Linked DNA regions of Homo sapiens: regions 2, 3, 4, 5, 6 and 7 are each linked to region 1. The links come from fine-mapping of genetic effects on gene expression. A gene starts in region 1. Each other region holds a variant in brackets. All regions are shown on one strand. Distances are from middle to middle. Region 1 holds the start of TBC1D1 (TBC1 domain family member 1). Region 2 overlaps PGM2 (phosphoglucomutase 2). Region 3 overlaps TBC1D1 (TBC1 domain family member 1). Region 4 overlaps TBC1D1 (TBC1 domain family member 1). Region 5 overlaps TBC1D1 (TBC1 domain family member 1). Region 6 overlaps TBC1D1 (TBC1 domain family member 1). Region 7 overlaps PGM2 (phosphoglucomutase 2).

What was found. PIP is the estimated chance that this variant, and not a neighbour inherited with it, causes the effect. A credible set is the group of variants that fine-mapping cannot tell apart.
Region 2: its variant is the best candidate, but not a certain one, in a credible set for the expression of TBC1D1 in prefrontal cortex (ROSMAP, PIP 0.80).
Region 3: its variant is the best candidate, but not a certain one, in a credible set for the expression of TBC1D1 in whole blood (INTERVAL, PIP 0.52).
Region 4: its variant is the best candidate, but not a certain one, in a credible set for the expression of TBC1D1 in whole blood (TOPMed, PIP 0.74).
Region 5: its variant is the best candidate, but not a certain one, in a credible set for the expression of TBC1D1 in thyroid (GTEx, PIP 0.78).
Region 6: its variant is the best candidate, but not a certain one, in a credible set for the expression of TBC1D1 in whole blood (TOPMed, PIP 0.64).
Region 7: its variant is the best candidate, but not a certain one, in a credible set for the expression of TBC1D1 in whole blood (INTERVAL, PIP 0.89).

What each region holds. Positions count from the first base shown.
Region 1 is chr4:37,888,904-37,892,970 of GRCh38, forward strand. TBC1D1 (TBC1 domain family member 1) reads left to right here and starts at 2,181. Exons shown (of 22, transcript NM_001396959.1): 1 at 2,181-2,445. RefSeq lists silencers at 1,700-1,889, 2,210-2,709, 3,739-3,788 and enhancers at 3,489-3,618, 4,049-4,067.
Region 2 is chr4:37,834,913-37,838,979 of GRCh38, forward strand. It overlaps PGM2 (phosphoglucomutase 2), which reads left to right. Exons shown (of 14, transcript NM_018290.4): 4 at 2,617-2,701. Among named protein-coding and RNA genes, the nearest start is that of PGM2, 10 kb to the left of the region's middle. The variant C/T (reference allele first, on the strand shown) is at 1,601.
Region 3 is chr4:38,121,330-38,125,396 of GRCh38, forward strand. It overlaps TBC1D1 (TBC1 domain family member 1), which reads left to right. Exons shown (of 22, transcript NM_001396959.1): 20 at 3,633-3,802. Among named protein-coding and RNA genes, the nearest start is that of PTTG2, 160 kb to the left of the region's middle. The variant T/TA (reference allele first, on the strand shown) is at 1,660.
Region 4 is chr4:37,997,334-38,001,400 of GRCh38, forward strand. The region is part of intron 2 of TBC1D1 (TBC1 domain family member 1); the gene reads left to right. Among named protein-coding and RNA genes, the nearest start is that of PTTG2, 39 kb to the left of the region's middle. RefSeq lists a silencer at 3,708-3,886. The variant C/T (reference allele first, on the strand shown) is at 2,183.
Region 5 is chr4:37,989,282-37,993,348 of GRCh38, forward strand. The region is part of intron 2 of TBC1D1 (TBC1 domain family member 1); the gene reads left to right. Among named protein-coding and RNA genes, the nearest start is that of PTTG2, 31 kb to the left of the region's middle. RefSeq lists an enhancer at 3,740-3,909. The variant CCTT/C (reference allele first, on the strand shown) is at 1,982.
Region 6 is chr4:37,981,299-37,985,365 of GRCh38, forward strand. The region is part of intron 2 of TBC1D1 (TBC1 domain family member 1); the gene reads left to right. Among named protein-coding and RNA genes, the nearest start is that of PTTG2, 23 kb to the left of the region's middle. RefSeq lists an enhancer at 884-983. The variant G/A (reference allele first, on the strand shown) is at 2,169.
Region 7 is chr4:37,846,866-37,850,932 of GRCh38, forward strand. It overlaps PGM2 (phosphoglucomutase 2), which reads left to right. Exons shown (of 14, transcript NM_018290.4): 9 at 66-246; 10 at 337-430; 11 at 1,657-1,786; 12 at 3,319-3,508. Among named protein-coding and RNA genes, the nearest start is that of PGM2, 22 kb to the left of the region's middle. The variant TG/T (reference allele first, on the strand shown) is at 1,826.

The sequences.
Region 1 (4,067 bases):
TGAAGGTAAAAACATGAAATAATTTGGGATATGACCCAAGTGATAACAATATGGTTTAACTGGTTTACCTGGTCTTGTAACCTAAAGAATAATTTCCATAACCCAGTTAACATTCTACTCATTACAGTATTTATGACTGTATATTTCTTAAAAAAGAGTTGAGGCTATGCACACAAATAACTACTCAATGACAAAGAATGAGCTGAGGGCTACACAGTGGCCAGAGAGCAAGTATATTATAAAGGGCTTTGGATCTTGGAGATTCCAGCACCCACTAACCCTGTAGGCACTAACCTCTTACTTTTCTCCTTAGTCAAATGGATTTAACAATCTTTGCCCTGCAGAGTTTTTGAGCAAATTAGCAACAATATATAAGGACAGTATCTAGCACAATACCCCAAATCGACTAACTCCTCCGTAAAGAATAGCTACCACTATTGTGAGAGTTTTAAGTCAAGCTGTGAATAAAACTCTTGGGTCCACTTAAAAATACCTCCCCTGGATGTAAGCATCCAGGGAAATCAGGGAATGCCATAAGACAGCCCTAATCTAAAAGCCTACAAGAAGCTCAGTGGGCTTCAAGGAAGACACTGCTCTTGGTACGATGAGGAAACCTGGCCCTCTATTTGCCTCCTGGGCCACAGTAATATTGATAATAGCTGCTGCTTTTAGTTGAGGACCATGTACGTCTGTGTCACTGCACTGGCCACTTTACTTACACTTTCCTGCTTTGTCCTCACAAAGATCCTGTAAGGTGTGTATTGGTCCCATTTAGCAGGTAAGACAATGAAGACCAGAGGTCCAGCACCTTGCCTAAACCACACCTGCTGGGATTTGGATTCAAGTCCAACCGTACAGCTCAAACGCTCAGCCACTTCCCTAAAGTCCACCCCCAGCTACATTAAGTAAAAAAATCCAGAAAGATGCCACCTGGGGGTCTGGAACTGCCTCCTCCGAGCACCCGGCTCTCCCCTCCCTGCGGACTCTTCTCTGGAGAGGATGTGATGCTTCTTACTTTTCTCAGATCCCTCTCCCCACCCTGCGAGTGACGTTGCGCCTCTGTGCCTGGTGGGATAGGGATCTGGGAGCTTCGCCTGTTTTTTGCACACTGCCATCCCCTAGTCTTAGGGAGCGAGCTCTGTCCCGCTTTTCACATCTCCGCGTCTTTCCTTGCACTCTACATCACCGCTGGGAATGTCCCCAGACCTGATCGGGGCATGCACACTGGGGTGTGCGTGTGCGTGTGGTGTGTGTTCCTGCGCGTGTGCCGGGCTCGCGGGGCAGGAAAAAGCGCCTAATCCAGGCTCTGCGTCACTCCCGCAATTGGTTAGAAATGGAGTTTCCTGGTGTTTAATCCCGGGAGGGCACTTCGCCTTCGTTGTTTCCCAGAGTCCCTGATTTTCCTGCCTCGCATGCCAGCGCCCCATAGGGCATCCGTGCCTCAGTTCACCTCTTGCCATCCTCCAAGGACGGGGAGAAGGGGTAAGGCGGGGGAGAGCAAGGTGGCTTGGTCGCCCCCGGCCCCCGCCCCCCATGTTGTGTGCAGTTTCCACCACGTCTGTTTCGGAGGGAGAAGAGGAGGGTGCAGATGAGGCGAGGCGCCTTCGGGAGCGCGGAGAGCGGGCAGGCAGTGCCACCTGCTGAGAGCCACTCAGGCCGAGCAAGCGGCGGGCAGTGCCACCTGCTATAAATAGGCCGCCAAGGACAGGGTGTGCGACTGTACATCCCGCCACGAGGGCCTGCATCACGCGCGGGGCCCCGCGCCCCCGGCTCCCCAGGGAAACGCTGTGCCCAGATCCTGCGCAGGGGTCTGGATGGGGCGGCGGCCCGAGTACTTCCCCCCTATTCCCCCCACAGACACTGGCTGAGGATGGCCCGCGGGCTTGGGGGCGGGGGGTGGCAAGGAGGGGAGGGAGGCCGCGGCGGACCCGCAGTGCAGCAGCTGTTGCTCGCGTGTGACTCGCCCGTCCGGGCCGTGCTGCCCAGGCACAGTCACACGGCGCAGTGGGGAGGAGGAGGACACCGAGTCCCCCTCCCAGCTCCCCGGGGACCGAGTGGGGAGATCCCGGCTCCTGTCTTCCCCTCGCCTCCAGCGCGCTCGCCCAGGCTGGGAGGAGGAAACCAGAGCCGCGCGCAGACACCTCCTCCTTCTCCTCCTCTTCTTCCTCCTCCTCCTCCTCCTCCTCTTCGGCTGCTGCTCCTGGTGCCGCCACCGTCCGCCGGTGCCTGTTGCTGCCGCCGCCGCGGGACCTGCTGTGTCCTCAGCTGGGTGGAGAAGAGGCGGGCGCCGAGCCGAGGGGAGCCCCCTCCCCGTCCCCCCGCGGCGGGAAGAGCGCAGCCAGCCGGGTGCGATGGACTCCCCGCCCGCCCAGGCCGTCCCCAGGATGCCCCCAAGCACCTGCGCGTCCCGGCCCGGCCCCGGGCTCTGAGCGCGCCGCGGCACAGGTAAGGCGCTTCCTGGGGCTTCGTCCTGGCCACCCTGCTGGCTCCTCTCGGGGCGTCGCGGCCGCCCCCTCCCGCAGCACGCCCCTGCCCCGCCTGGCCGCGGAGGGGAAGGCATCTGGCCGCCCACGGACGCGAGGCCAGGGTCTCTCGGGGGAGGAAGTTCATTGCCATCTCGTTGCCCCCCTTACCCCCCCACCCCCGCCGCCCTTGGACGAAAGCGAAACCTTAATGTTGCTAGCGACCCGAGAGCTCCGCCGGCTTCTCCCCCAACCCCCGCCAGCTCACTGGTCCGCGCATCTCTCCCCTCCCCCCTCCCGCCAATTATCCTAGCGTGTTTGCAAGGCGACCAGATTGGAAAGAGTGTGGTCAGAGTGACCCCAAGCCACGCTTTAAAAGTTCAGGGTACTTTGCAGTAGTAACTTTGGCAGCTCCACCAGTGCGCGCAACATTTCTTTCTATGGGTACATCCTGTACCAGTCATTTTGAAACCCTGCTTCATTGTTTCTAGCCGCTTCCTGATGGCTCTGTGATTATGAGACCCCCCTCAAACTTCACCAGGCATTAAGGTTTTGTTTTTGCTTTTTTTTCAGAGAGGTATCATTTCGTTTGAAATCCACCTAGATGTGGCTTTTCCTGTTTTGATTTTACTTAACATAGCTTATTCTCTGGAAGTTGCTTTAAAAAGAAATTGAAAGTGATGGTTGTTCCTTCCACCAAACAGTTTAATTTTCAGGGTGCCTCATATTAATGGATATGTTTTCCCTTCATAGATTTCTCATTGTTTCCCTTATGATGGGATGATTTCATTTATTAATAAAATCAGACTTTGAAAGAGCATTTAAAAATGACCTGGTTTAAATAGGTCACACCCAAGAAACTCAGCTATCTGTACAAGTTCAAACTTCTAAACTTTTTCAATGAGCTAGGGGTGGTGGCACCCACCTGTAGTCCCAGCTACTTGGGAGGCTGAGGCAGGAGGATCACTTGAGCCCAGGAGTTCGAGGCCATAGTGAGCTATGACTGTGCCACCTCACTGGAGCCTGGGTGACAAAGTGAGATCCCATCTCTTAAAAAAAAAGAGTTTAGGGGACATTTTCTGAAGTGAACACAAGTAGAGCATTCTAACACTATTGAGTGCAAGGAGACCTGGAAGGGACTAAGTGGTTCAAAGCAGGAAATAAAATCATCAGGTGATAATTAAAATAATTTCTTTCCTGTGGATTTGTCCAGCCATTTGCAAACCAGGAGAATAGGAAAAAAAATCACTAGTGTAGTTATAAATTATTACATTACGTTTTCAAAGGAAAATTTTGCAAATGCGTCTCCTTGTCATAGTCTATTGTTATCTACCCCACTGAGAGTGCTGGGGCTTCCCCTTTTCACCACGACAGCATTTCTGGTTGGGTGGCAGTCATGCAGTGTTGACCTGGTGTCCCATAAGGCACAGTTTGTCAAAACACTAGTGGGTATTAGGAGGAAACGTGCAACTCTGAAGCAACAGAGCTTGCCCCTTCTTCCTCATTATCCAGCTGGTGATAATCCCTGTCCCCCACTTCCCTAGAAGACAGCTTTGACCAGGAAGGCTGCAATGACAATGAGATGTACCCCTATGCAGAGCCAGA
Region 2 (4,067 bases), 54 kb before region 1:
TTAGACAATTTAGAATGTAATACCTAGCTAAAAGAAAGAAATTTCTTAAACTGGCAATATTATTTTTCCCTCTCATTTGCCTTTTTATACATAATTTTTACCCTGCTATTCATAAACCTCATGACCCCCTTCCCTCTCTTGAACGCCCACGTCAAGCTGCATTTCTGAAACATTCTCAAACCAATGGGACTCTCTTATGTAGCTGAAGGCATATGATGCTGATGGTGACAATGATAATAGTAATAGCAGCAATCATTTGAGTGCTGATTATGAACCAGACACTTATGTATTTACTCATTCTATCCTCACAGCAACGTGTAAGGTATGTACTTTTATCTCTTTACCCTGAGATTATAATGTGAAAGGAGGAGTCGCAATTTAAGCCTAAGGACACTAGTACCAGGGGTCAGCAAACTTTTTCTCTAAAGGGCAAATAGTGGATATCATACACATTGCATATCACATGATTCCCATCACCACTACTCACCTCTCCCATGAAGCAGAGAAACATCCATCGACAATGCATAAACACAGGAGCATGGCAGTGTTCCAGTAAAACTTTACTTACAAAATGGGCTGTAGTTACCAACCCCTGCCCGTAACCATGTTACATAACCCTCTTTTTTACTTGAACACTTCCTCTGTTATGATGAATTTTTAATCATTCTAGAGTATCAGTATTAGTAGTAGCTTAGAATTACACATATTGAATATTAATGAAAAGTCTTATTAGCTTTACAGAGCTGGATGAGTTTATAGAGTCCTATCTTTGCCCATCAGGAGCTTCCAATCTAAGACAGAAGCACTCGTGGGGACAAACGTGTGGCCGTGAGGAAGGGTGCATAGCCGGGGAAAATCACCCGGTGGCATCAGCCCCAGGTTCAACTCAGGAGGGCATAAGATTTTTAGTCTTTAGCTTTGCAGCTCAAAAATGTGCTTTTTGTCAATAAAGCAAGAGAAAAGTTATAGCTCTGGGGGATAGATGCACATGAACTACATTCACAAGAGAATGATGTGGTATAAACCAGCATATCAGCTTGTCATTTACAGTTAGTGGATGTACAATCAGAACTAAATCGTGACCGTGTTCCTCTGCCGCCCCAGGGCAAGTCAGATCCTTTGCTCAGAGCATGCAAAGTGCACGTATGTGGCTAAGTCTGTCTGCTGAGCTGCGTAAATTTCTTCATTTTGGGCTGACTGCCCTGCTTCTGGTTGATACAACCTTCAGAGATATGTTAACATTATCAATTAAGGTACAGATTTTTTTGCCCTGGCCTTGGAGCCGTATCATTTCCTTAAAGTGAGTGATGTTACTGATTTAAGCTTATGGTTCAAGTCTCAGAGTTTGATGGGATGGGATGGAGTGGAACTCAAGGCTACTCTCTATCACCTGTAACGCGTGAGACATTTAGAGATCATAATGTAAGTGTTTAACCAACACATGGTAAAATATTCATGATGAGTGAATGGAATCTTCGTAAGGAGTTGGAAACTATTGCAGTTTCTGAATTTCGCCCGAGGAGATGTTTATCCTTTAATCTTCCAATTTTAAATATCTGGTGGGGAACGTAAGCAGTAACTGTTAAGTATATGCAGAGAA[C/T]GCATTGCATTTTTTTGTGCACATTTGTAACAGAGAGAGAGAGTGGCGATCTGCTCTTTGTGCCCCAGCCAGCCTTCAGAATAGTGTCGGCGAAGCTAGTGCCCAAGAAGTATTTGGGGAGAGTAAGAATGATCTGATTGTTTAACTCACAGGGGTGGTATAATGTTGTTCATTCTAAGTAAATCGCTCATTTATTTGTGGTAACGTATTTTACACCAGCTTGAAGGAAGATTTGATGCCATTTTCTGCGTCTTACCCTAAGCAAGTTTCTGTGGAAGTTGAGAAAAATGTCAAAGAATTAAGTTTTCTTTCAAAGGCTGATTGGAACCAAGATGTATATATGTGTATGGGTGTGTGTGTGTGTGTGTGTATACACACATGCGTACTCCAGGATGTCTTTATATTTCAAATAAAGCAATCTCTAATCAAATTCCAGTCTGTGTGGTGTACGCTGGATTGTGATAGGCTTAGGCTGGGATTTTCAGCCTCTGCACTGTTGACATGTGACTGCACAGTGGCTGGATGATCTTTTGTTGTGGTTGTAGGGTACATTGTAAGGTGTTCAGCAGCACCCCTGACCTCTCCCTACTAGCTGCCAGTAGCAACTCTCTCCATTTCCCAGCATGACAAGCAAAAATGTTTCGAGACATTTCAGATGCCTGGAAGGAGAAGGTGCAGACTTGCCCTGGCTGAGAACCACTGAGATAGACAGAGAGCTGAAAGGCCAGGAAGCAGCCTGGCTCTGCCACTAAGTGGCTGTTAGAACCGGGGAAAGGGGCCTGACCTTTCTTGGCTTTAGTGCCATTTCTATAAAACAAAAGAGTGAAATGAGATGACTCCTGAGAGTCCTCCAGCTTTACTGTCCCATGCCAGGGTAAAGATTATAATAAATGCTGTCCTTGATCTGGATGCTGCATTCACCCTAAAGAACATTCAGCATTCATTTCCTTCTTTCCATCACTCACAGTCCTGATCACTCAACTCTCCTTTTCTTCCCTGTCACTCTGCATTCTCAGGTTTGCCCGACTTGCTGCAACCACATTTATCAGTCAGGGGATTCCTGTGTACCTCTTTTCTGATATAACGCCAACCCCCTTTGTGGTAAGTAGCCATTTCCTTTCATAATTTCCTGTCACATGATCAGGGATGGGACTTGGCTGAATTTTATAGTCTTTAGGGCTATTGGGATTGGACTGTTTGAATGACAGAGGAGTTCCTTGGCATGTATGAGACATTTCCTTCTCTCCTGGAATGTTTCTCCCACATCTTAGTAATATTTCTCTGGTATTCAACTTTTGATTCATTGGAATTGGTTTTTTTAAATTGCAGTTTTCCTTTTCTTTGCATTCTAAGGGTATTCGAGAGAGTCAGCAAATTTTTTTTTTTGAGACAGAGTCTCGCTCTGTTGCCCAGGCTGGAGTGCAATGGTACGATCTTGGCTCACTGCAACCTCCGTGTCCCGGGTTCAAGCAATTCTACTACCTCAGCCTCCCAAGTAGCTGGTATTACAGGTGCCTGCCATCACTCCCAGCTAATTTTTGCATTTTTAGTAGCGACGAGGTTTCACCACGTTGGCCACGCTAGTCTCGAACTCCTGGCCTCAGGTGATCCACCCAGCTTGGCCTCCGGAAGTGCTGGGATTACAGGCATGAGCCACCACGCCCGGCCTTTTCTCTGTTTTTAAATTTGGTTTGTAGTTCTTTTTCTCAGCTATCACAATTAGGAAACTTCTTGTGTCGAAATCTGAATTCACCTCAAACCCTGTCTTGTCATGAATATTTTTGACAAGCTGGCACACCCCTGTTTTATACAAATGTTTTATTCTAAATACTATTCATGGCTAGTACAGAGAGCATGCTCGGCATATTTGAGTAAGACTTTCATCAAATCCTTCATGTAGCACAATCTAAAGAAGAAGACAGTAGGGACTATGACAGTTGTTGCTTTGACATAGACAAAACTTTTAAGAGCTGGGCCAGATGCTGAGAATATGTTTTGGAAAATGTGATTTGGATGCAGTTAGTCACATCTAGTAGAAATGAGACTGTATTGCTACAGAAGGAGGTTCCAATTCATTTTGTGTTTGCCGGCTCTAGTGCACTGACAGGTAGATGCAGCACCCCTAGGCTGTAAATAACCTGCTAGACACTCTATTCACATCTAAATGTAGTTCAGGTTTCATTGTTTGATGGAAAAATTGTCATGTATTCAAGCATCCTAATTACCTTCTGTACTAAGTGTTAATAGCTATTAATTTTATGTCAGACATGAATTGAACCAGTGTATCATGATCCTCTGCCCACACTGAGGAGTCGTCCTCCCCTTTTCTTTGGCCCAGAACACCTGAGAGATGTGACATAACTTCCAGGGTGTTCAATGACTGCAGTGATTCTTGGTGAAAGGGTGGAGGGGACGGACAATTTAAATCTCAGGTTGCCTGTGTGTAATCAATGTCATTTGCCACAGT
Region 3 (4,067 bases), 230 kb after region 1:
AAGTTTAGTTTCAAATAGAGTTCCAATACACAGTAACGCAATAAGAGGGTTGCTGAAATGTCCTCAAAGAAAAGCAGTTCCTTTGTGTTGTTCCCAGCGAATACAGTGCAAAGTAATAGAGTCAGCTGAATTTAAGATTCCTATTTCCTGCCGGATAAAACGTCTTGCCTGTTTCTAGGTGGCTTGAAAAAGGAGAGGAGAGAAGGAAGAGGCAGGAGAAAAGTCCCACTGAAAGGACGTGGGCTACAGTGTAGTGAGCTAGGCTACTGCCTCACTGCGCTGGGCGGCTCCAACAGTTCACTGTCTCCTAGGGAGGTTTTCAAATGCAGGACATTTGCTCACTTTTCCAAGGAGAGTTATTGTTTTTTTGTTTTGTTTTGTTTTGTTTTGTTTTAAAAAATTCCAGAATGTAAATGTATAAGATACCGGAAGACAGGCAAAATAAAAATAATTGGTTTGGGGCAGTGGGTTTATAGGTAACATTTTTCTTTACTATTGTTTTAAAATTAGATGTGATTTAAAAAAATTTCCAAAGCCAAAAAACGGTACAAATGCTTTAAAGGATGAAGATGTTGTCCCCAAGTGTCATCAGACAAATTTAGGAGGCCCTTCCTCCCAAGCAAAGCTTCCTGCAGTCCTTCCTTCAACTCTGAATTCAAGCACATTCCTGCATTGTGCACCCAAATGATCTCCCGATTTAAGACCCCCTGTGTCTCACAGAAGCTTCTGGGGCTGAACTTTCTCCGGCCTTGGAGGGTTGGACGCTTTGAATGGGAGGAGTGGTGGTGAGTGGAGCATCTCTGGCAGCAGGCATTTGGGAGTCTCTGGCAGGAATCAATCAGCGTAGTCTCCAAAGGTGGCCTTTCTCTGACACTAACTAGCCCTTGCAGGGGTCATACCCATAACCTGCATCTCATTAACATCATCTCCTTACCAGTGCACTGACCTAGTGAGAAAAGGAACAATAAGCATTCAGCGACTCCTGCGGTGCTCCAGGGGAAGTTAGAATTGCTTGGCTGGGGCAGAGGCCCCTGGTGATCTGGACCTGCGTGCCCCCATTTGCCCACCTTCTGCCCTGCACAACCAGTGCCCCTGCCTTGCCAGCCAGACTGTTTTTCAGGCTCCTGCACACCTCCCTGTATTGACACCCTATTTTCCTTTTATTCAGAGTATTAATCCTGAGGTCTGACCTAGGAAATTTTCATTGGTTCTTCAAGCAGTCACCTTTCTGTGGGCCTTTTCTTTCCTCTTTGTTCTCGTAACACCCTGGGCATAACTCTACCGAACCAGAACTCCTTGGTGTCTCTGCAGCGTGTTCTTTGTGTTTTGCTCATGGCTTAATCTCCAGAGCCTAATACAGTGCCTGATGTGTATTAGATGCTCAATAGATGCTCATTAAGTTAAAGTAGAAGACACCTCTCAGCAGAGTTCTCTTAAGGTGTTGTGAATAGCATTGGGAAAGAACATTTATTTTTTAATTACATTAAATACAAACAGATATAATAAAATAAATCATATGCCCAGTGCTATGTCTTAATTTTTTAACATATCAATAAAGAGACTTTAAAACACATAACACCACCCTCTCCCCTCCAAATTTCCTTTCCGGGAAAGTCTCCTTTTGGAATCATAGGAAGCACTTACTAAGTTGATTTATTG[T/TA]AAAAAAACCAAGATCCTAATAAATCTCAGAAGATCTCCTGTTAACCTAAAGAGACCACTGATGTGGATTCTGTATTTGGTTGTGCTGACAAAAGTTTCCCAGTAATTGTTTATTTTAATTGGCGTAGATGTGGTACTGTACCTAATTTAAGGCACTTGTCCCTCTGAGAGTAGAGACCAAGCTATAGAAAATCACTGGTGTTGTAGGGAAAGCCTTTCCCCAGGATCCCTGCAAAAAAGGTCTTGATTTTTATTCTGAAAGATGCCCTCATTTTTTGTTCAGCTATAAAAGTTCATATATTGAAAGGAGGTCTAGGAAGTCTCACTGTGTAAACCACTGAAACTTCAAATTTACTTTAGAGTTTTGTTTCTGGAAATGTCATTTCTGTTTAAAAATACATCTTTGTTATAGTATTATTTTAGATCTTTTTATTTTCTGTAGTGGGGAATTATACAGGTAGACTACATTTTATAAACCAGATATTTCAGAGGAATATTCTTCAATTGGCCTGCCTTGGTGTATGTAACACTTACCCTGAAAAGCTCTGATTTCAAAGACACAGTTAGTTCTCTAGTATATCTTCCCAGCCTCAACAACCAGACTTAAGAAGGAAGTGAAGGATTCATCTTCCCCACTTTCCTGCGGCCACCCTGAGCCATCAGTAGTTGTGATGTTTGTGGAAAGAGTGTGGACCCTGAGCTGGGTGGGAGAAGCAGGCTGATCTCAGCGCTGGCATGGCTTAGGGCTGCACCCATCTCAGCTCACATGGTTAATTAAGGGTTTTGTGGTGGTTACAGAGGATCTCGAGGGCTATCCCAGCCAGCGGGCTCCTGGGTCTGTCATCTCTGCCTGTGCTTTGTTCAGAAACTACAGGGATTCAGTTTCCCATTTGCACAGCAGCACCCAGTCTTTGCTTTTCTGTTTCTTCGTGGCTTTTAAATGTTATCATATTAACCATCTAGAGAGGCACCCTGCAAGGTTATTCCTCTCACCTGCTTTTGCTTTCCTTGATTTGATGAAATTTACAGCTTCTTTCTCTCTTCCATTATCTTTCAGCCAAAAGAAACAGAGAAAAGAAATACTGACACTTGCCTCCAATTATATTTCTACTCTGATTTTTAAAATTGTTTTTTTCTTATATTATTATTCTAGTTATTAGGTAACCTGCCTCAGTTTAGTCAACCAATAATTAGTTATCGTGGCTCTGCTTTAACCCCAGGACATCGACTCTTTTTTTCCCCAGCAGCTTCAACTCTATGAGGAAGGTGAGACAGGGCTAGGGTTGCTGCTCGGCCGCTTGCCTTGGCCGGTGCCCTCCCTCTTATTCTGCAGTCTGTATAGAAGTTGCATCCATTTGCCAGCCACTCTAAGAACAAAATATGGCCAGAACTAGGAAGTAACCTTGACAGAGTTCTTGAACTCCTCAGAGGGAAAAATGTTCTTTATTCCATTATCATGTTAAAAATCAGTAAACTTGTATTTAACAAAGTACTTCTGCAGTTGTACAGCTGTTGTACAGTTTTTAAAGATCTTTGAATTCTATTCCTTGTTTCAAAACAGAGGAAACAGAGACACTTTTTCACTTACTCTATCTTAATTTCTGATGCTTTATCTATAAAAATCTTTTAGTGTGACCCATAAAAACATGTTTTAGTATCTCCTTTAAAACCCAGGAGCATTCCTGGAAAAATAGACTAATAAAACCTTTTTCCCTTTCCCAGTTTAACTTTTGAAGCATGTTTGAATTTTATTTTCAGAGTAAAACATAATTTTTAATGTTTATGTACTTTTATTTGCAATACTGTCTTGACAACACTGTCTGAGATATCAGGCTCTTAAAAATGAAATAAAGTTTGCAATGTGGGGCTATGTCTCCCACACTCCTGCTCTGTGATGTGTGGAAAAGGCAATGGAATGGTATTGCGTGAGAAACTGGTCTGGTTTAACTTTCTGCATTTCTGTGTTTTCTCAGATATGATTTTTCTTCAGGGAACAGAGGTCATATTTAAAGTGGCTTTAAGTCTGTTGGGAAGCCATAAGCCCTTGATTCTGCAGCATGAAAACCTAGAAACCATAGTTGACTTTATAAAAAGCACGCTACCCAACCTTGGCTTGGTACAGATGGAAAAGACCATCAATCAGGTATGAGTCAGTCCAAACCTTGCAAATGCTTAAGCCATCCTAGATATGTAGAAACTTAAATCTCTCTTGAGCAGGAACTGTTTCCTACCACTTTGTGTTCTGAACGGCATTCTGCATGATGCCTGGCATGGAGGAGGCATATCACAAACGTGTGGAATGATCGTGAGTGTGTGTGTTGTGAGCGTCATGGTGAAATGCCACATGGAAACATGGTGGCAATGTTTAGCTGTAGAAACCAGCACAGGTTATTAGTAGTTTCTTACAT
Region 4 (4,067 bases), 110 kb after region 1:
GAAGTTTGTTTTTGTACTGTATTGTGCTTCCTGACTTAAAGGCTTTTGTGTGTTATGTCGTGAAGCATTTGGGGGCACTTAGAACTGTATGCCGTTTCACTTGTACATTAAAAGAGTTTATCCTAAGATGAAGATTTTTTTCTTCTTTCCAAATGATTTTGCCCCTAGAAGTTTTTACCTAGTAGCAGTAGATGGTAACTTTGAAAAGACTAAAGTTTAAGAAAAATGTACTTTTAAAAAAATTAAAAATAACCTTTTTTATGATTACAAAAATACATATATATGAAAAATAACATACTGATAAGCCCAAATACATATTCCTACCACCCAGAGACCACCACACGTAGTCCCTTCCAGATCTGTTTTATTAATAAGCACTATTGAAAATTCTGTCTCTTTTGCTGGAAATAAGTAGAAGAAATAACAGCTGTTCATATACATTTACTTTTTTTTTTTTTAAAAGAGAATTTTTTGCCAGAATGCCAGAGTAGACTGAGGGTGGATGGGCGAGGGGATTATTCTCTGAGGTGCAGCACACCCTGGTTTCACTGTCTGCACAGTTCCCACTTTTTGTTCAGGGATAAGATGTCTTTGAGAAGAGAAAACCCATGTGAGTAAATATTGAGTTGTAATCTGTATTCGGATTTCTGGATTTTTTTTGGTCACAGTGGTTCTGCCATCTAGCCACTGAACCCTCCCAACCTTTCCCCGTCCTCAGCCCTCATCTGTCACGTTCAGTTACCACTTCTTGCCAGCTTTACCTTCTAGATAGTTCTTGACTTCATCCTCTCCTCTCCATTTGTATTGCCACTGCCCTAGGTGAGATCGTCACTTCTCTCTCCTCAGTTGCTTGTCTCTTCCTTCATCAGTGATGTATTCACTCTGGGTGTGAGGGGCAGCGCCAGGCACTGGGTTACAAGACCCCTGTCTCCAGCGACTGTCTTCTTGAGGACGAAGGCAGGTGAATGAGCCATTGCCACTTCATCCTTCTGCCTGTCATCCTTCCTCTGCTGTTATGTCCATCAAGCCCATTCTCTCCCCAGCAGCCCTGGTGATCCGTTGGAAATGCAAACCTGGCCAAGTCCCCACCTCGCAGTCCTCAGCTGTCTCAGTCTCAGCTGTTTGCTGGCAGCTGGGTCGGGCTGTCCTGGGCCTCCTCCACACCTCCCTCCTCGTCTGCCTCCCCTGACCAACCGGGCCTCCTTGCTCTTAGGTGGTTTTCTCTGTCCCTCCCCTCCTGACCTCCCCTCTTTGCACGTGGTCAGTCTCCTTGCCTCTGTTGCCTTGTTTTCTAAATCATGTTACCTGTCTGTCCCCACTCTTCAGCCCAGCGCACAGCACAGTTTCTGACTTGATAGTCTGCCTTCTGTAAAACGGGAATGAGGGTGTCTTCTTCAGAGTGTTGGTGTGAGGATTAAATGAGATGTAATCCACTGAAAGCATGGCCTCTGGCACACAGTGGGCCTGATAAGTGGTATTGATGCCTGAGATATTGTATTAACTTAAATGACCAGGTTGAAGAGAAGGTGTCAGAAATTTACGTTCCTCCATGTGTATTTGATTATATAAAATACTGTTGGTCACACTTTCCCTACGTCATATTAGGTAAAGTTAGAAAGTGAAGGCTTTTCCACTGGGCACGGTGGCTCTCGCCTGTAATCCCAGCACTTTGGGAAGCCAAAGCAGGTGGATCACTTGGGAACTCAGGAGTTCAAGACCAGCCTGGCCAACACGGTGAACCCCTGTTTCCACTAAAAATACAAAAATTAGTCGGGTGTGGTGGTGGGCGCCTGTAATCCCAGCTACTCTGGAGGCTGAAGCAGGAGAATCGCTTGAACCCGGAGGCAGACGTTAGTTACAGTGAGCTGAGATCAAGCCACTGCACTCCAGCCTGGGTGAGTGAGACTCCGTCTCAAAACAAACAAAAACAGAAGAAAAAAAGAAAGTGGAAGGGTTTTATGTTTCTTTCATGTTTAACCTACATGTTGTAGGTAAAGTTTACCTACAACACTTTGGTGTATTTTCAAGTAAATATATTTAATCGAAGTGAATTACTGTTACATTATGAATTTTACACTTTTAGAGAAACAGAAACTGCCTCACACATTAAAGTGTGTGTGTTAAGCAAATACTCTGATGTAGGCCCGCAAAGTACACAGAAACGAATCAAACAGCATCCTGC[C/T]CCCAGCGCGTGGTGTAGGGGAAGGGCTCAGGGCTATGACAGGTGTTACAGCAGAAGACCAGGTGCCCTCAGGACCTGGGAGAGCAGGCCTGTGGGGGGAGGGAGGGGAGGAGACATTTGGGTTGGATCTGGAAGAACCTGCAGACACTAGTGGAGGAGAGTCAGTGGAAGAACATTCTAGAGGAAAGGCTTGCCCACTTGCCTGCAGTGGTTGTCAGATGTGAGCTGCAACCTAATTAACAGTTTATTGAAATGAGATATCAAAGGTATTTATTGGGTATGCTTTTCTTGTTTTTCCATTGGCAGTGATAATACCAAGTTGACAGTTGAAAATGCTTTTCCATCTGTTTCTGTATTGGACTGAGTTGTTGTATTCCAAGGACTAGCTAGGCAATAAATCACATCAGACTAAAATTGAGTACTTGTAACATTTGAAAAGATTATAATGTGCTGGTATTGATGAAGAATTTATACTGTGTAGAAATTAATTCCATTATTCTAACTAATGGACACTTGAGTTTTGCCCCATTAGAGTTTGCTCTTCATGTTGATTTTAATTTCTTTGATGACTATAGCGTCTGGCGAGGCTTTCTCATTTTCAAGTGGATTTGTTTGCATTGGATGGTGGGGCTGGCTTTATTGCATTATTCATATATGCAATACATATGCACCATGGTCCCAAGACATGACTCGTGGTGGTGGTGATTGTATTTTTGAGATGTAGCTGATACCTCCCATCCTCTGGACTTCTTTGGTTCACATCTTTATTTTCACTAACCAGTAACTGAAAATCTAATATTTTCTTTGATTTTGAATGTAGTCAGCAAACCCAGTAGCATTACAGATGGAGTATCCCTTATCCGAAATACTTAGGACCAGCAAGTGTTGTAGATTTAGGGCTTTGGAATATTTGCATTGTACTCACCAGTTGAGCATCCCAAATCTGAAAATCCAAAATGCTCTGATGAGCATTTCCTTTGAGTGTCATGTCGGTGCTCAAAAGTTTCCAATTTTGGAGCATTTAGATTTTGGATTTTTGGGCTAGGGATCCTCAGCCTGTAGCAGTTCCTGTGACTATAACATCAATAAAATCACAGTACCATGATCTGTTTCTACACTGAACACTTCTGACATCAGATGTGTCAGAGTTTTCCCCACACCAGCAACCAGTTCTCTGATTCTCTGGTCACCAACTGGGTCTCCAGTGATCAGTTAAATTCTGACACTAACAACCTGAAGTTAGCACAGACCCCACAAGTTAAGGGCTCAGTCTCACAAGACTGCCCCAAGATACCCACTGACCTGCTATAAATCAAGTTCCCACCACCTCCTCCTCAGGGTCAGTCATTTGCTAGAATGGCCCACAGAACTTAGAACACTCTTTACTTACATTTACTGGTTTATTATAAAGAATACCACTCAAGGCCGGGTGCGGTGGCTCACGCCTGTAATCCCAGCACTTTGGGAGGCTGAGGCGAGCGGATCACCAGGTCAGGAGATCGAGACCATCCTGGGTAACACGGTGAAACTCCGTCTCTACTAAAAATACAAAAAGTTAGCCGGGCATGGTGGCGGGCACCTGTAGTCCCAGCTAATCGGGAGGCTGAGGCAGGAGAACGGCGTGAACCTGGGAGTCAGAGCTTGCAGTGAGCCAAGATTGCGCCACTGGACTCCAGCCTGAGCAACAGAGTAAGACTCCGTCTCAAAAAAAGAAAGAAAGAAAGAAAGAATACCACTCAAGAAGAGCCAAATGGAAGAGATACGTAAGGCAAGGTATGGAAGGGGTTTTGGGGTGTTTAGAGCTTCCATGCCTCTTTGGGCCTGCCACCTAGCAACACCTCGATAAGTTCATCAACCCAGGAGCTCCCTGAATCCCACCATTTAA
Region 5 (4,067 bases), 100 kb after region 1:
CCAGATCTTTAGATAATAACGCTTTCAACTAATTGCCACTCAGAAAATATTTGAATCCACCTATGACTTGCAACCTCCCCTCCACCTTCAAGTTGTCCCACCTTTCCAGACCAAACCAATGTACACCTTACATATATTGATTGATGTCTTATGTCTCCCTAAAATGTATAAAGCAAGCTATAGCCCCGACCACCTTGAGCACGTGTTCTCAGGACCTCCTGGGGTTGTGTCATGGGTCGTGGTCCTCACATCTGGCTCAGAATAAATCTCTTTAAATGTTTTACGGAGATTGATTCTTTTTGCTGACACTAATATTTAGATTCTTTCTGTTGTTCTAGCACATTCTGCATGAATTAAACATAAACCCTGTTCCCTAGTACAGAACAAGAGCAAACTGCTTTCTTTAGGCCACAAGTAACTTAGATCAGTTAAGGGGAAAATGGGGGAGAGAGGAGGACATTGGCTTCTGCCACCAGCAGCCTGTGTGACCTTGCCCAAGGTCACAACTCTGTGGGGTTAGTTCCCCTTCCCTGAAATAGGTGTAGGGAGGGACTCCTTGACAGTTTCTGGTTTTTTTCGTCTCTCAGAGTGCAATGAAGAATTTCTTCATGGCTAAGGCTGTTAGACTCCAGAAAATAGTTTGCCAACCAAAGACACAGAGTTTCCAATTTTGGAATACTTTAAAAATAGGAAGGAAGTTTATTTGTTTAGCAGAATTTATAATTGTAGGACTGCCCAAGGCAGAGAATTAGCCAAGTGGTATTTTGCGGAAGTTCTTTTTAAAGGGTGGGCCCAAAGGAAACCAGTCATTAGGTGGAAATAAACTGTCAGATTTTTGAGACGTTATTTGCTTAGGGACATTTACACTGGTCTATTGTGACAGTCTCTATTGTGTTAGGCTTTTAAAAGAAATATGTAAGTTTCCAAGTTTAAAATGTTAGAGCAAGTGTCCAGTCCACGGCCTGTGGGCTACATACAGGCCAGGATGGTTTTGAATGTGGCCCAAAAAAGATTCATCAACTTTCTTAAAACATTGAGTTTTTTTTTTTTAAGCTAATCAACTATCATTAGTGTTAATGTATTTTATGTGTGGGCCAAGACAATTCTTCCAGTGTGGCCCAGGGAAGCCAAAAGATTGGATACCCCTGTATTAGAACTTGTAAAATTTGACTTCAGAAACACAACCAAAAGCCCGCTTATGAGTAAGGAGTTTGTGGCCCCTTGTGTACTGATTATTAATCAATTAATTGTATAATAAGCATGAAATATTGCTAGTACATCTAAGGCCAAAGCCTTCTTACGGTTCCAGAAAAAGCTGTATTCCTGAATTTCCAGGTGAAGGGAAGGGATTCTCCTTCCATTTCCAGAAATATGTGAATATAATACATAGGGATTTTTATCACACTAGTGTTTCAGTAAAAGCAGCCCTTCAAGTCTGTGCCATCCAGTTTTGGTGTAACTGAAAGAACATCGTACCAAAGTTTGATTTTTGTCAATTCTCTAGTGTGTTAATCAGCTGAGAATGTGGTCTCTGGATATTTTTCCCCAAGGAAAGAGCTGGATGTACTAGACCACCAGACCACACAACTCTGTATTTGTTTTGCAATAACTACACTATTTGGGGGAGTAGTGTGGTGTTTCCAGACGTTCTTGGTCAAGAAATCTGGCCGCTTCAAGCTCAGTGTTGATCACAATCTATTTCTTTTGCCTCTACTCTGTGGCAGGCACTTGAGACACAACTGCCAAGATGAGAGAGACCCAGCTGCTGACCTGGGGCGGGGGTGGGTGGGGGGAAGGTGGTGAAGGCAGTCACAGAGTCAGCCTGCCAGAAAGCAGGTGGGGAACTGTAAACCTCTGAGTAGCCCCTTGGTATACAGAGGTAATAATTTCCCAAATGTAGTAAATCCCACTTTACAACCTCACGGTTAATTTTGATCAGGGATAAGTAGAACTGACTATACACTGTTAACTTAGATATTGT[CCTT/C]CTCAAAAACATCATTTTTATTCTGGGTGCCAGAGATTTGGCTTGGGTGTGGGTGTTAAGAACAGTCCACAGTGTCCTGGAGTACCTCTCCGCTGATCTGGGGGCTCTTTAAACCTCTCTAACAAGTTTTTGTGCTAATCCTGACTGAGTAGATGGAGGCAGTGGAGCCCAGCTGGCCTGTCACTATGGGGCAGAGGGTGACTCTACCCTCAAGCCCTGCATGAAGACCCCAGGGTGGGCACCACAGCCCTTTACAGTCACTTAGCACCTGCTGCTGAACACGAGCATGCAGACCTGGTAAGGCTTGTGAGTTTCAGAGAATTCCTGCAAGTCCCTGGAAATGTGGGCACTGGCAGCTCTTCTCTCTCTTTTTTTTTTTTAAATTTAGTGGGCTTAGAGGTTTTAGCCTAATAAGGAAATTTTACACTGGACGATTTTATCCCAAATAAAAGCAAATCATAGGGACCCAGTGTTGCCTAAAAAACCAGTCCTTACTGGGGAGGTCTAGTTGTGTCTAGCCTGGCTCTGTGACCAGATGCCAGCCATTCCAGCCTCCTGTGGCTGCATTTCATCCCGAAAGTGAATAAGGTGAGTGAGTGATTCAAAGGTCCCATCCAGGGGGTGACAAAGAATATTCCAGGTGGAAGAAACTGCATGAGCAAAGGTATGGAGGTGGAAACCCAAATGAACAGAGGCTTAGGAGGTGTGTTCGAAACATGTTTGGTACAAACGGAACTTACAGAGAAAGAAGCCAGGTGAAATAAGGCAGGAAGAGTTGAGTGGAGCCCCATTGGTGGGAGACCCTGAGGGTTAGCAGGACTGTGTTTGTTCTGGTAGGGATTGCAGAGGAGCCCTAGAAGGTTTGTGAGCAGGAGGCTGACCCCATCAGACCTGTGTTTCCAGAAGATCAGGCTGTGCTGGATAGCAGGATGGATGTAGGGAGATGCCAGAGGCGGCAGAGGAGAGGTCTTGCTGGGGTCTGGCTGAAGCAAGTGTAGGCCCGGACCAGCGCTTGAGGTTTTGGGCTCGTGGTGAGAGAATATACACCCAAAGAGCTGAGGGAAAGAAGGAGTAAGGAGAAAGAAGAGCAGAAGCCACTTACCAGGTTTTGAGCCCAGTTACCTAGAAGGCATTTGGGAAACAAGGAAGTAGGAAGAAAGGCCTATTTTAAGGAAAAGAGAATGAGCTTGATGTGGATATTTTAAGGTCAAGGACTAGAAGTCTGGTGTTTTTTTTTTTTTTTTTTTGAGACGGAGTCTCGCTCTATCACCCAGGCTGGAGTGCAGTGGCGCGATCTTGGCTCACTGCAAGCTCCGCCTCCCGGGTTCACGCCATTCTCCTGCCTCAGCCTCCCGAGTAGCTGGGACTACAGGTGCCTGTCACCACGCCCGGCTAGTTTTTTGTATTTTTAGTAGAGATGGGGTTTCACCGTGTTAGCCAGATGGTCTTGATCTCCTGACCTCGTGATCTGCCCGCCTCGGCCTCCCAAAGTGCTGGGATTACAGGTGTGAGCCACCATGCCTGGCCGATTCTTTTTTTTTTTTTTTTCTTTTTTTGGAGACAGAGTCTCACTCTGTCCCCTAGGCTGGAGTGCAGTGGCGCGATCTCAGCTCACTGCAACCTCCGCCTCCTGGGTTCAAGTGATTCTCCTGCCTTGGCCTCCCGAGTAGCCAGGATTACAGGCGTGTGTCATCATGCCCAGCTAATTTTGTATTTTTAGTAGAGATGGGGTTTCACCATGTTAGCCAGGACGGTCTCGAACTCCTGACCTCAGGTGATCCGCCTGCCTCAGCCTCCCAAAATGTTGGGATTACAGGCGTGAGCCACCGCGCCCGGCCTGGTGATTCTTTAAATAGGTGATTGGAAATGTTAGCGAAGTTTAGGAAAGAATTCAGAGCTGGAAATGTAGAGAAAGAAACCATCTTTCTTAGTTTTTGGGGAGTAGATGCCATCCTGAGAGAGAGGGAGAGACAGAGAGAGAGAATCAGAACACTATGAAGAATCTTTTTTAAGATGTCTGTGAAATGAAAGATTTTACTAAATACATTCTAAAGGAGAGAATTACATTAGTAAGATTTCATTA
Region 6 (4,067 bases), 92 kb after region 1:
CCAGGTTTTCCGTATTTGGGCATTACTTTTAAAACATTGGTTTATCTAGCCACCATTCATTCAACAGGTCATTTAACAAATGTGTTCAGTGCAGATATTTATGGATAACCTACCTATAATAGGTACTATTTGAGGAGCTGGGGATTTAGCAACCGACAAGCAGACCCCTGTTTTCATGGAATTCTAGATGGGAGAGATAGCAAAGCAGCAAGCAAATAGGTGAACAAGATTATTTCAGATGGTGATCAGTGCGAGGAAGAGAAGTAAGTGGCTCCGGGCTGGGGTGGTGCAGGGGTGGCATTCCATCTGACTGGTGAGAGGGCAGGAAACATGCTCCAGGCAGGCCTCAGGGAGAAGGGAGGTATGGCTGGAATATATCCAGCTGGGTGCACAGCACTGAGCTTTGAGTGGGGAGGGGTAAGGTGGGCCAGGCTGTTTATGGCTCCATAGGCTTAGAATGGGGTTTGGATTTGCTTTTAAGTGTAGTCAGAAGCCGTTAAAGATGTGGAAAAGAGGAGTGATGTCAGCTGATGTATATTTCGGATGGAAGCAGAGGGACCACTTAGGAGGTGGTTTTGGTTCGGATAGGAGGTGATAGTGGTAGCTTGGACCTCAGTAATAAGAAAGGAATACCAGTGGATAGTCATTGTCTGTATTTTGAAATGATGTGACCCAGTGGCTTTGCTATCTTGTTTGTCTGTGTTTGGTGCAAATAACCGAGTAACTAATTGCTATTTATATGTTGAGTACGAGTACAACTTGCCCTTCCATCATCTCTTTCTTCTAAGCACAGCTTCCATGCAAAGTTCTGTCCTGACTCTGGGCTTATTTATTTACCTTTGAGGTTTCCTGCAGACTAGACCAGCCCACCTTGGGTGCCGGTAGGCGGTAGGAGTTGCCCTTCTGTTTACCAGCACACAGCACAGCAGCCTTCCTATGTAAGGTGTGAATCTGACTATAGCAAATATTTAGGCAACAATTTTCTTGTGTTGCTTGAAGTCAGTCCAGTGTTGGTTTGTCCTTGATGTGTGTCCTAGGTTAATGTGATGTATTGTTTTAAAATTTTTTTTTCTTCTGTAGACTCATACTACATTTTATTAGTGGATGCTTGAGTTTAATAAGGAGGGGAGAACTCCTTGTCATAGTCAAACCATTCCTTGAATTTGAAAAATGTGCTGCCTCGGCTAAGCAAAGCTGGTATAACCCTGACCAGGATTTCAGCAGAGTTCCTGTGGAGCACTTTTTATCTGGTAGTGGTGGCAGCTGTGTTTTGGGCTTTGGGAACTCTAGTTGCTTAGAGTGTGCCAGGAACTTGGGCGTAGGTTGGTTTTACTGAAAGAGAATGGAGGAGAGCAGAGATAGAAATCCCACCTAATCCACAAATAGAACACAGCCCAGAGCAATGCCTGATGAGAAAAAAAGATAAAGTATAATTTGTTTCCTTAGACAAATTCTTTAATCTGATTTTAACCTGTATGTGTGTCCCCTGTTCTTCTGTTTCTATCAAAACTCTCCTCATCCTTCATTCCTTTCCTGAAGCACCTCTGATTAATCATTCATTCATTGACGAATGTACTAAGCAGGGCAGAGAATAACGGGAAGGGCAGGTTGTGCCAGGCAGTTAGAGTAGCGTATGCTAAGGCCTGGAGGCCCCTTGGTGGAGCTGCACTCACAGGAGGTTGGTGGGCCTGGAGCGAGACTGCTGGGGGGAGTAGCAGAGGCGAATGAGGACCAGGATGAGCATGGCATACAGACCCCTTTGGTATTTTATTCTGGAGCAGTGAAGACCCATTAGGGGCCAAAGATGATCTTTCCCCAAACTCTTTTTTTTTTTTTTTTTTTTCAGACGGAGTCTCGCTCTGTCACCAGGCTGGAGTGCAGTGGTGCGATCTCGGCTCCCTCCACCTCCCAGGTTCAAGTGATTCTCCTGCCTCAGCTCCCGAGTAGCTGGGATTACAGGCAGGTGCCACCACACCCAGCTAATTTTTGTATTTTTAGTAGAGACGGGGTTTCACCATGTTGGCCAGGATGGTCTCGATCTCCTGACCTCGTGATCTACCTGCCTCGGCCTCCCAAAGTGCTGGGATTATAGGCGTGAGCCACTGTGTCCGCCATCCCTCCCCCAAACTCTTATAGCTGTGTATTTCATTCTGTATGATGCTTTGTAC[G/A]GTCACCACACTGTGCCCAGCTTTTTCTTCTTCCCTTTTTTCTTTAAATATACTTTATTTTTTAGAGCAGTTGTAGGTTTACAGCAAAATTGAGTGGAAGTTACAGAGATTTCCCATATAGCCCCTGTCCCCACTGAACTTCTCAAGCTTTGTGATTTTCATAGTAAACTCACAGATGTTTTGATAGAAACAGAAGAACAGGGGACACATGCACAGCATCCCCTGTTATTAATATTCCTCACCAGAATGGTGCATTTGTTACAACTGATGAATCTATATTGACATATGATTATCACACAAAGTCCATCGTTTACATTAGGGTTCACTGTTGGTGATATACATTCTACAGGTTTGGACAAATGTATAATGACGTATATCCAGCATTATAATATCATACAGAGTAGTTTCATTGCCCTACCAGTCCTCTGTGATCGATTCATCCCTCCCTTCCTATAAGCCTTTGGCAACCCACTAATCTTCATACTATTTATAGAGCATGTATATATAGTTCTGCCTATAGAGAATGTCATGTAGTTGGAATCATACAGTATATATGTAGCCTTTTCGGATTGGCTTCTTTCACTAAGTATATGCATTTAAGTTTCCTGTGTGCTTTTTTTTTTAAAATGGCTTGATCATTTTTTTGTGCTGAATCATATTAATTGCCTGGATGTACCACAGTTTATCCATTCACCCACAGAAGGACATCTTGGTTGCTTCCAAGTTTTAGCAATTATGAGTAAAGCTACTATAAACATCTCTGTGTAGGTTTTTGTGTGGATATGAGTTTTCAGCTCCTTTGAGTAGATATCAAGAAGTATGATTGATAGATTGTAATGTAAGATTATGTTTGTTTTTGTGAGAAGCACTCAACTGCTTTTCAAAGTGCCTATACCATTTTGTATTGCCATCAACAATGAATGAGAATTTCTTTTGCTCCTCACAGGCATTTGATGTTGTATTCTGGAATTTGATTATTCTAATAGGTGTGTAGTGGTACCTCATAGATGTTTTAATTTATGTTTCTTTAATGACAGCTGATGTAGTCCTACTCCCTTTCTTTTGATTGACTTTTAAGGAATAGAAATAATGTTAGGCCAGGAGTGTTAGCTCACACCTGTGATCCCAGCACTTTGGGAGGCTGAGGTGGGTGGATCACTTGAGGCCAGGAGTTTGAGACCAGCCTGGCCAACATGGCAAAACCCTATCTCTAGAAAAATACAAAAATTAGCTGGGTGTGGTGGCGTGTACCTGTAATCCCAGCTACTTGGGAGGCTGAGGCACGAGAATTCCTTGAGCCTGGGAGGCAGAGGTTGTAGTGAGCCAAGATTGTGCCACTGCACTTAGCCTGGGTGACAGAGTGAGACCCTGTCTCAAAAAAAAAAAAAAGAAAATGTTAGTGCTTTTGAATTTTATTTTAGAATGCACAGTAATATTCACGAACATCTGTACAACCTATAGGAAGACCTTTATTTGGTTATATTTATGATATATATATTTTCTTGAGATGGAGTCTTGCTCTGTCACCCAGGCTGGAGTGCAGTGGCGTGATCTCGGCTCACTGCAACCTCTGCCTGCCGGGTTCAAGCAATTCTCTTGCCTCAGCCTCCCGAGTAGTTGAGACTACAGGCACGCGCCACCATGCCTGGCTAATTTTTTTGTATTTTTAGTAGAGACGGGGTTTCACCATGCTGGCCAGGATGGTCTTAAGCTCCTATCCTTGTGATCCGCCTGCCTCAGCCTCCCAAAGTGCTGGGATTACAGGCGTGAGCCACCGCGCCCAGCCTATATTTATGATATTTATGAATCTAATCTTAAGTATCTGGTTTTTCCATTTTAAAATTTCTATGATTTCTGATTTTGTTGTTGGAAGAGTGGTGAACAAGTACTCTGTGCTCT
Region 7 (4,067 bases), 42 kb before region 1:
ACACTTTAGAGTCTTCCTTAAGATTATGGAAATGAATGGTGGTTGTTGTTTTTTTTTTCTTTCAGTGGTGAATGGAGGGTGTTTTCAGGCAATGAGTTGGGGGCCCTCCTGGGCTGGTGGCTTTTTACATCTTGGAAAGAGAAGAACCAGGATCGCAGTGCTCTCAAAGACACGTACATGTTGTCCAGCACCGTCTCCTCCAAAATCTTGCGGGCCATTGCCTTAAAGGAAGGTTTTCATTTTGAGGTAGGGTGTTTCTGGGACTCACTCATTTTCCTTTCATCTGCTCTGTAGAAGATCTAAGGCATGTCTTTCTCTTTTGGATTATCCCTTTAGGAAACATTAACTGGCTTTAAGTGGATGGGAAACAGAGCCAAACAGCTAATAGACCAGGGGAAAACTGTTTTATTTGCATTTGAAGAAGCTATTGGTAAGAAGTGATCATGAACATTAAGGAATTGGCTGCAAGGCAAAAGGAAAAGGTTTGGATTGGGATTCAAAGATCCACAGTGAAACACGGTTTATTTTGCCTCTCCAGCACTCAGGTTGAATGTCGAACTGTCCTACTCCAAAATTGACATCTCAGATGATTTACAGCCAAAAGGAATGTCTTAAAAACAACTAAGTCATTCATGTCAGAATCCTTTGCCTGGATGACTCAAAACAGTGACATTGTATGCTTGGCTGCCGGTACATGTATTTTGGGAGTTGTGATGTTTCCTCCACTGTGGTGGTTAATATCCAGGCCTAAACACTGTGGTATTTAATGTCCCTCCTCCTCCAAAAGTGCTAATGAGGATCTATGCTACGGTCTAGCCAGAGGAAAGGAGAAGGAAGGCATGGTTTGCTGCTGTCATCAGAATGATACTCACCCAAAAGGATGACCCAGGTCCAGCCAGAATGACAGAAAAACCCTTGTCCTAAACTGTCAATATAAATGAACAGAAAGGAGAACTAGCTATAGAAATTTGAAACTCACATTGTACCAAACGCTTTTAGCTATTAATTTAGTAAAAACTATTATGCATTAGATTTATTTATATTCATTTGTATATTCTCTGCAACACTAACACATGATTTAACTAATCAAAGCATAATCGCTCAGGTTCTGCTCTTTTATTGTCAGATTTGGCAGACTTGTCTTTCCGTAGCTTTTTATTTTAAGAAAGATTTTCTTTCATTTATCAAGTATTAATTGCATGTCTATTACTCAGTGACTCTAAAAGAAATGGATGGCACTGACCTTAGCCTACAGCAGCTTAGATAGATTTAGTTAAGTAATCACACACAAGAGTAGAGGCCAGATGTCAAAATGAATAATGTAACTAACAAATACTATTGGGATTCAGAGAAGAAAGAGATATGTATTGACTAGGACAATTAGAAACAATTTCATGAGCTGGAAGGAGTTTCATGACTCTAGTGATTGAGCACCATGTGGCCAGGAGGGAAAATCTTGCAGGTTCTTCAGCAAATACTTCTTGAAGGCCTGCTATGGGCTAGGCACTGGGCTAAATTCCTAAACATAAGGTATTAATGAGAAATGTGCATACACGCAACACTGTACAACCTCTAATATGCAATAGCCAGGATTCATACTCATATGTGGTTTGACACAGTATTGTATAGATGTATGTATGACGTGTGTTTCTGCAGGATACATGTGCTGCCCTTTTGTTCTGGACAAAGATGGAGTCAGTGCCGCTGTCATAAGTGCAGAGTTGGCTAGCTTCCTAGCAACCAAGAATTTGTCTTTGTCTCAGCAACTAAAGGCCATTTATGTGGAGTAAGTTGTTATTGACTCTGTTGGATTGAAATAATATTT[TG/T]AAATGTTCTATTATATACTTATGCATGAGATACTAATATCCTTTCTAATGCTCTTATTTTGGTGATGAATTCTATTTCTTATAAAAATTAAATAAGGCTGGGCACAGTGGCTCATGCCTGTAATCCCAGCACTTTGGGAGGCTGAGGCGGGTGGATCACCTGAGGTCAGGAGTTCGAGACCAGCCTGTCCAACATGGTGAAACCCCGTCTCCACTAAACATACAAAAATTAGCTGGTTATGGTGGTGGGCACCTGTAATCCCAGCTACTCAGGAGGCTGAGGCAGGAGAATTGCTTGAACCTGGGAGGCAGAGGTTGCAGTGAGCCGAGATCGCGCCATTGCACTCCAGCCTGGGTGACAAGAGCTAAACTCTGTCTCAAAAAAAAAAAAAAAAAATTTAAAAAAACTAAAGAGATCACCTTTTCCTTTTGATATGTAACAAGTTAGTAATTACTATTCCCGATCGCATTAATTCTTAACAAATGACAACATGAAAGAATGTGATTTTAAGTGTCCAGTATCAAAAAAGATTGAATGTCTTCATAATACATCTATTCATTTTTTTGTAGCACTTACTCAACTCTGCCTTGCCAGTGTAGTGCGTAAGCATCCAAAGAGAATACAGAAATGCGTGTGACCTGGCTCTCTGTGCAAATGCAGGCGGAAGACCAGGCAGTCATTTGGTGATCCCTGGGGTAGATTGTTGGACCTCTTTTTTTTTTTTTTTTTTTTTTTTTTGAGACGGGGTCTTGCTCTGTCACCAGGCTGGAGTGCAGTGGTGTGATCTCGGCTTACTGCAACCTCTGCCTCCTGGGTTCAAGCAATTCTCCTACCTCAGCCTCCCGGGTAACTGGGATTATAGGTGTCCCCACACCTGGCTGATTTTTGTACTTTTAGTAGAGTTAGGGGTTTCACCATATTGGCCAGGCTGGTCTCAAACGCCTAACCTCAGGTGATCCACCCACCTTGGCCTCCCAAAGTGCTGGGATTACAGGCGTGAGCCACTGTGCCTGGCCTAGACCTCTGTTTTAATGGTCTTTTAAAAATTATTCCTTTGGCGTCAGTTTTGGCTGTTACATTTATTTTATTATTTATTTTATTTTATTTTATTTTTTGAGATGGAGTCTCTCGTTGCCCAGGCTAGAGTGCAATGGCACAATCTTGGCTCACTGAATCCTCCACCTCCTGGGTTCAAGCGATTCTCCTGCTGCAGCCCTCTGGAGTAGCTGGGACTACAGGTGCCTGTCACCATACCCGGCTAATTTTTGTATTTTTAGTAAAGACGAGGTTTCTCAATGTTGGCCAGGTTGGTCTCATACTCCTGACCTCAGGTGATCTGCCCGCCTCGGCCTCACAAAGTGCTGGGATTACAGGCGTGACCCACCACACCCAGCCATATTTATTTTAGAATACACTGGTTGGTACATGTTCTGTGTCCACCCTACAAAATTATTTGTTCCTCATGTGCATGAATTTGTATTTGTTTGATAGGTATGGCTACCATATTACTAAAGCTTCCTATTTTATCTGCCATGATCAAGAAACCATTAAGAAATTATTTGAAAACCTCAGAAACTACGATGGAAAAAATAATTATCCAAAAGCTTGTGGCAAATTTGAAATTTCTGCCATTAGGGACCTTACAACTGGCTATGATGATAGCCAACCTGATAAAAAAGCTGTAAGTAATGTCTTCTCTTTTCAACTAACCTCTTTTCTATTTACCTTTTAAAATAATTTGAATAAATTATTTAACCATACAATTAATTGAAGCTGATTTTAGGCACTTAGGCGTGATTATAAATAAGCTATAAAAAATATATGGAAGCCGGATGTGGTGGCTCATGCCTATAATTCCAGCACTTTGGGAGGTTGAGGTGGGCAAATCACTTGAGATCAGGAGTTCGAGACCAGCCTGGCCAACACGGCAAAACCCGGTCTCTATTAAAAAATACAAAAATTAGCTGGGCGTGGTAAGTTAAAAACCGCAGGCTAGAACTGAAAGAGACTCTACTAGGCTGGGAGCGGTGGCTCACACCTGTAATCCCAGCACTTTGGGAGGCCGAGGCAGGTGGATCACTTGAGGTCAGGAGTTCAAGACCAGCCTGGCCAACATGGTGAAACCCCATCTCTACTAAAAATACAAAAATTAGCCAGGTGTGGTGGCTCATACCTATAATCCCAGCTACTCAGGAGCGTGAAGCAGGAGAACTGCTTGAACCCAGGAGGCAGAAGTTGCA